2 separate regions of the Homo sapiens genome follow, and region 1 is linked to region 2. The links come from fine-mapping of genetic effects on gene expression. A gene starts in region 2. The other region holds a variant in brackets. All regions are shown on one strand. Distances are between the middles of the regions.

What was found.
Region 1: its variant is fine-mapped to the expression of DCTN6 in prefrontal cortex (ROSMAP, PIP 0.95).

What each region holds. Positions count from the first base shown.
Region 1 is chr8:30,370,713-30,373,626 of GRCh38, reverse strand. No RefSeq gene overlaps it. Among named protein-coding and RNA genes, the nearest start is that of RBPMS, 12 kb to the left of the region's middle. The variant AG/G (reference allele first, on the strand shown) is at 1,243.
Region 2 is chr8:30,154,893-30,157,806 of GRCh38, reverse strand. DCTN6 (dynactin subunit 6) reads right to left here and starts at 1,438. Exons shown (of 7, transcript NM_006571.4): 1 at 1,401-1,438. The coding sequence starts at 1,423. It overlaps DCTN6-DT (DCTN6 divergent transcript), which reads left to right and starts at 1,147. Exons shown (of 1, transcript NR_186490.1): 1 at 1,147-1,978. LOC124901927 (a long non-coding RNA gene) reads left to right here. Exons shown (of 2, transcript XR_007060880.1): 2 at 1-635. RefSeq lists a silencer at 1,068-1,177 and enhancers at 1,238-1,387, 1,331-2,313, 2,138-2,347.

The sequences.
Region 1 (2,914 bases), 220 kb before region 2:
GGTATTCCACAAAGCCCAAAGGGGCATACTGCTTGCTGAGCTGTACCCCAGTGGGTCAGCTGGGCACAGCATCGAACCAAAGACAATTACTCTTTTTTTTTTAGGAGACAAGGTCTTACTCTGTTGCCCAGGCTGGAGTGCAGTGGCATGATCATAGTCCACTGTAGCATCGAACTCTTGGCCCCAAGTGACTCCTCTGCCTCAGCCCCCCAAGTAGCAGTGACTCCAGGTATGCACGTCCACACATGGCTAATTTTAAAATTATTTTTAGAGATGGGGGTCTCACTATGTTGCCCTGGCTGGGCTCAGACTCCTGGCCTCAAGGGATCTTCCTGCCTCAGCTTCCCAAAGTATCAGGATTACAGGCATGAGGCACCACACCAGGCCAAGTATTATTTTTGAGCCTTAAAATCTCATGGTATTTGCTCTGTTAGGTTTTGGACTTACTTGGGACCCATCGCCCCTTTCTTTCTTCCAGTTTCTTCCTTTTGGAATGGGAATGTATATCCTATGCCTGTCCCACCATTGTATTTTGGAAACACATAACTTATCTGGTTTCACAGATTCACAGCTGGAGAGGAATTTTGCCTCAAGATGAATTGTACCTCGAGTCTCTACCATATATACTCTAGATGATATCAGATGAGACTTCAGAGTTGATGCTAAAATGAATTAAGACTTTGGGGGCAGTTGAGATGGAAAGAATGTATTTTGCATGTGAGAAAAACATGAATTTGGAGGGACAATGGCACTGAACAGGAGGCCGTGCTATAACCTCTACATGGACTGTCACATTTTATTGTTTAAAGATGCCAGGTTAAACATAAGCATTTCCGTCCCTCTCCCTAAACCTCTAATAACAATTCAGAAAAGATGTGTTGTCATCAACATTATTTTAAAGCATAAACTAACAAGGATAAAGAGAATGAAAGAAAGCTAGGCCTGTGGCTTATACCTCTAATCCTAGCACTTTGGGAGGCCAAAGCACAAAGATCACTTGAGGCCAGGAGTTTGAGACCAGTCTGGGCAATACAGCAAGATACTCATCTCTACAAAAAGAAAAAAAATTAGCTGGGTATGGTGACACATGCCTGTAGTCCCAGCTGTTTCAGAAGCTGCAGCAAGAGGATTACTTGAGCCTAGGAGTTTGAGGCTGCTGTGAGCTATGATCATCGCACCACTGTACTCCAGCCTGAGTGACACAGCGAGACTGCATCTCTTAAAAAAAGAAAGAAAAAAAAA[AG/G]AGAGAGAATGAAAGAAAACAATAGTAGTAAAATTTGGGAAACTGTGAAGCAGATTAATATTAAGAAAACTAAATCCAGCCGGGCGCGGTGGCTCACGCCTGTAATCCCAGCACTTTGGGAGGCTGAGATGGGCAGATCACGAGGTCAGGAGATCAAGACCATCCGGACTAACATGGTGAAACCCCATCTCTACTAAAAATACAAAAAATTAGCTGGGCGTAGTGGCGGGCGCCTGTAGTCCCAGCTACTTGGGAGGCTGAGGCAGGAGAATGGTGTGAACACAGGAGGCGGAGCTTGCACTGAGCCAAGATCGCACCACTGCACTCCAGCCTGGGTGACAGGGCAAGACTCCGTCTCAAAAAAAAAAAAACAAAGGAAAGAAAACTAAATCCTAAGCTTGGTGGTGGCAAAAAATTGAGAAGCTACAGAATTCCCAAAAGACGCAAGCCTTGGCAGTAGCTGGCACCTCAGAAGTGAGAGTGAAAATGGGGCTGTAACCAAGAGGATTATCGAAAGGAAAGCAATACATTCCTAGATTCCTCTTTTTTTTTCACATTTTATTGTGAAATTTACTTGTTTTCATTTGTTTGTTTGTTCGTTTGAGACAGAGTCTCACTCTGTCACCCAGGCTGGAGTGCAGTGGCACGATCTCAGCTCTCTGCAACCTCCGCCTCCTGGGCTCAAGTAATTCTCATGCCTAAGCCTCCAGAGTAGCTGGGATTACAGGCGTGTGCCAATGCGCCGGGCTAACTTTTGTATTTTTTGTAGTTTTGTATTTTTTGTAGAGACAGGTTTCTCTATGTCGGTCAGGCTGGTCTCAAACTCCTGACCTCAAGTGATCCACCCACCTTGGCCTCATAAAGTCCTGGAATCACAGGCATGAGCTAGCGCACCCAGTCGAAATTAACATTTTAAATTTGTCTCTTCTCTTTTTGGGAATATCTAAATGGAAAAAGAAAAACAGATATATCTTCTTCTTCTTTTTTTTTTTTTTTTTTGAGACAAAGTCTCACTCTGTTGCCCAGGCTGGAGTGCAGTGGCATGATCTTGGCTCACTGCAACCTCTGCCTCCCAGGTTCAAGCGATTCACCTGCCTCAGCTACCCTAATAGCTGGGATTACAGGCATGTGCCACCACACCAGGCAAATTTTTGTATTTTTAGTAGGGATGGGGCTTTACCATGTTGGCCAGGCTGGTCTCGAACCCCTGACCTCAGGTGATCCGCCTGCCTTGGCCTCCCAAAGTGCTGGGATTACAGGCATGAGCCACCAGGTCTGGCCCCCCTATTGTCATTTTTATTAGAAGTTTATTTCTCTTCATATGAGTAAAGTTTTATTAAAGCAGCTTAACTATAAATATATAAAAATTTTAAAGACAAGAAACATGACTAATGAGGTAAACATCAATGGCTGAAAAGTTGGAAAATTAGGTGTGTGTGTGTGTGTGTGTGTGTGTGTAAATTTAGGCTTCCAGTAATCATAAGCATTACTGTAATTTTCACCCTAAGTGAACCACTTTAAAATGTGTGCCTTTCTTGAGTAACCATTGTAAATATTAATTGGACATTCACAGACTGTAAAGGTTTAAAACTAATGACTGGATGTTATGGCAAACAGTGTGGAGCTTCCTCAAAAAATTAACAATAGTACTGATCTAGCAGGCTTGCTACT
Region 2 (2,914 bases):
TGTCAGTTTTCTTTGTCAAAAATAGTCAGCAGAGGGAGCTCAACACTGCTGCTGTTCGAAATGGCTTTACTTATGCACTTGTCTCATCCCAGCCACCAACAGCCACCAACAGCCCCCAGCAATGAAGACTACCGGAGAAGAAGCCAAACTTCCTGTCCCCACATGTTTACAAAGGAGCTTGTCCACTCCACGCCTGGCAAAAAATGTCACAGTTCTAAGCTTATACACTATTGGTGGGAATATAAATTAGTTCATCTATTGAAAATAGTATGGTGATTTCTCAAAGGACTAAACACAAGTACCATTGGACCCAGCAATCCATATAGAGCTACCAATCCAAACGGAACTACCATTCGACCCAGGATCTACTCAAAGGAAACCATTGTATTAAAAAGACAACTGCACTCCTATGACTATCACTGTACTATTCACAATAGCAAAGTATGGAATCAACCTAAGTGTTCATCAACGGATGACTGGATAAAGGAAATGTGGTGTATCTATACGATGGAATACTACAGAGCCATCAAAAAGAAAGGAAACATGTCTTTTGCAACAACATGGATGGAACTGGAGGCCATTACCTTACGCGATAACTCAGAAATAAAATCAAATGCACATGTTCTCACTTTTAAGTGGGAGCTAAAATGAGTACACATAAACATAAAGAGGGAAATAACAGACACTGGGGACTCTAAAAGCAGCGAGGGTAGGAGGGGTTTGAGGGCTGAAAAATTACCCATCTGATACAATGTTCACTATTTGGGTGGTAAGTACACTAGAAGCCAACTTCACCATTACGCAATTTATCTATGCAACAAATCTGCGCAAGTACTCCTTGCATCTATATAATGTGTGTGTGTGTGTGTCACAGTTCAAGTCCAGGCGCGGCCCCCCTTTTGACAGCGACCGTAAATCCCTTTACACACCCCACCCTCCAGAGACAGGAAGGGCCTGGGGTGCGGCCAGCACTGGCGTGGGGGTCTCGCAACATGCAGCAGAGAATCCAGCGCCAAGCCGTGGGGTACAGCGGCGCCAAGCACCGCCGATTATGCGGGAGAAGGGAGCCGGCCTTCCCCAGGAAAAAGCTGACGTCACCCTCCCCTCACAGCCCCCCCCGCCCTCCCGGCCGGGAGACCCCCTCTGCGCAGGCGCATGTGGGGAGGGACGGCCAGACAGGAACAAAAACCTTCCAGGCAGCGACTCCGCGTCCCTTCTCAACCCTCCCCGCCCCCACTCCGTCGCCCCCTCCCTCAGTGGACGCCAGGTCTGGGCTTCAGGTACCTTCGGCCCGAATGCCCAGGATGAGACACCTTCTGAGTCGCCACCATTGGCGACCAGGAACAGGTTCCACCCCTACGGAAAGCTGAGAAAAGGCTTTTCTCAAGCAGCAAACCCACCTCTTTTGAGTCTTCTCCGCCATGGTACGGCCCCAATTGGAACGTAGATCGACACCACCGCCTGGGTAGAGCGATAATTCCACATGCGATTGGAGAGCCTGGCAGGGTTGGGGGAGGGGCGGAGCCGGGGTGGGGCGGGGACCCGGAAGCTTGCGACTCTTGTTTGCGTCGCGTCTGGGCGCACAGGACTGTACTTTTGGTAGCGGTGCGGGGCCGCCCGCGGACTTTAGCCCTGCATAGAGATGGGTAGACCCTAATTTGGAACAGCCATTGACTGGGCACAGGCCAGCACTTTGGGAGGCCGAGAGGCCGAGGCAGGAGGATCGCTTGAGGCCAGGAGTGCCAGACTGCGAGACTAGCCTGGGTAACATAGTGAGACCCTCTCTTCAAAAAAAAAAAAAAAAAAAAAAAAAAAAAGCCTGTCACGGTGGCCTGCGCCTGTACCCCAGCTACTCGAGAGGATCGCCTGAGCCCAGTGAAGCTGCAGCGAGCTGTGAGGATGCCACCGCACTCCGGCCTGGGCTAAAAAGCTAGATCGTGTCTCTGATAAAAGAATAAAAGCTGTTTATTGCAATCCAGTCCGCGTCATTATGCCCTCATTTTACCCACTCGCGTAGGCGTAATTACACCCTAAAGGTATTTCTCTGACCTCGCCGATGTCCTTTTCAGCCTGTCTTTCTCTACTCATTAGGGCTCCTTCTGGCCCTTTTCTCGCTCTATATGAGTGCATCCTTCCTATAGGTTAAGTGCCCTCTACCTGTTTGCTCTCTAATGAATGTCTCTGGTTCTGCCCTCTGTGCCGATCTTCACACCTGACATTCGGTTGACTAATTGACATCTCCGCTCAGAGTCGTATCGAACCTAAAACTTACAGAACATGACTTTCGATTAACACTGCCGTCCTCCCTGCAACCTGCTGCTTTTTTGATCCACACCATTTGCCTAGCTGCTCAAGCCAGACACTCAAGAGTCACCCTGGCACTCCTCACCCCTACATCTGTAATAGATCTGCAAGTTCTGCTTGTCCTACCTCGGGTCTCATGCTTACACTTTTGTCTACCGGACCATCTCTCTAATCTCAGCCGATGTGTCTCTCCCAGTTGTTCACTCATTCTGTACTTGGCCTCTGAAATCACACCTCCTCATCTCCCACCCCCAACCCTGATCCAAGTAGTTCTCTTGTAGTCAAAATCATCCTTTAAAAGACAAATTGAGGCCAGGCGCGTGGCTCAAACCGGTAATCCCAGCACTTTGGGGGGCCGAGATGGGAGGATCGCTTGAGGCCAGGAGTTGGAGACCAGCCTGGTCAACACAGCATGATCCCGTCTCTATATATTTTTTCTATAATGTATTTTTTTAATGGAAAAAAATTAAAAATAAGAGCCAAATTCAGTTATTTCCCCTTCCTCTTAAAATCTAAAATCCAAACTGCTTTCCATAACCTATCTCTGAGCTACATCCAGCCCCTGCCTACTTCTCTCTTTCTCTTTCTATGTGTTCGATCACACCCTCAT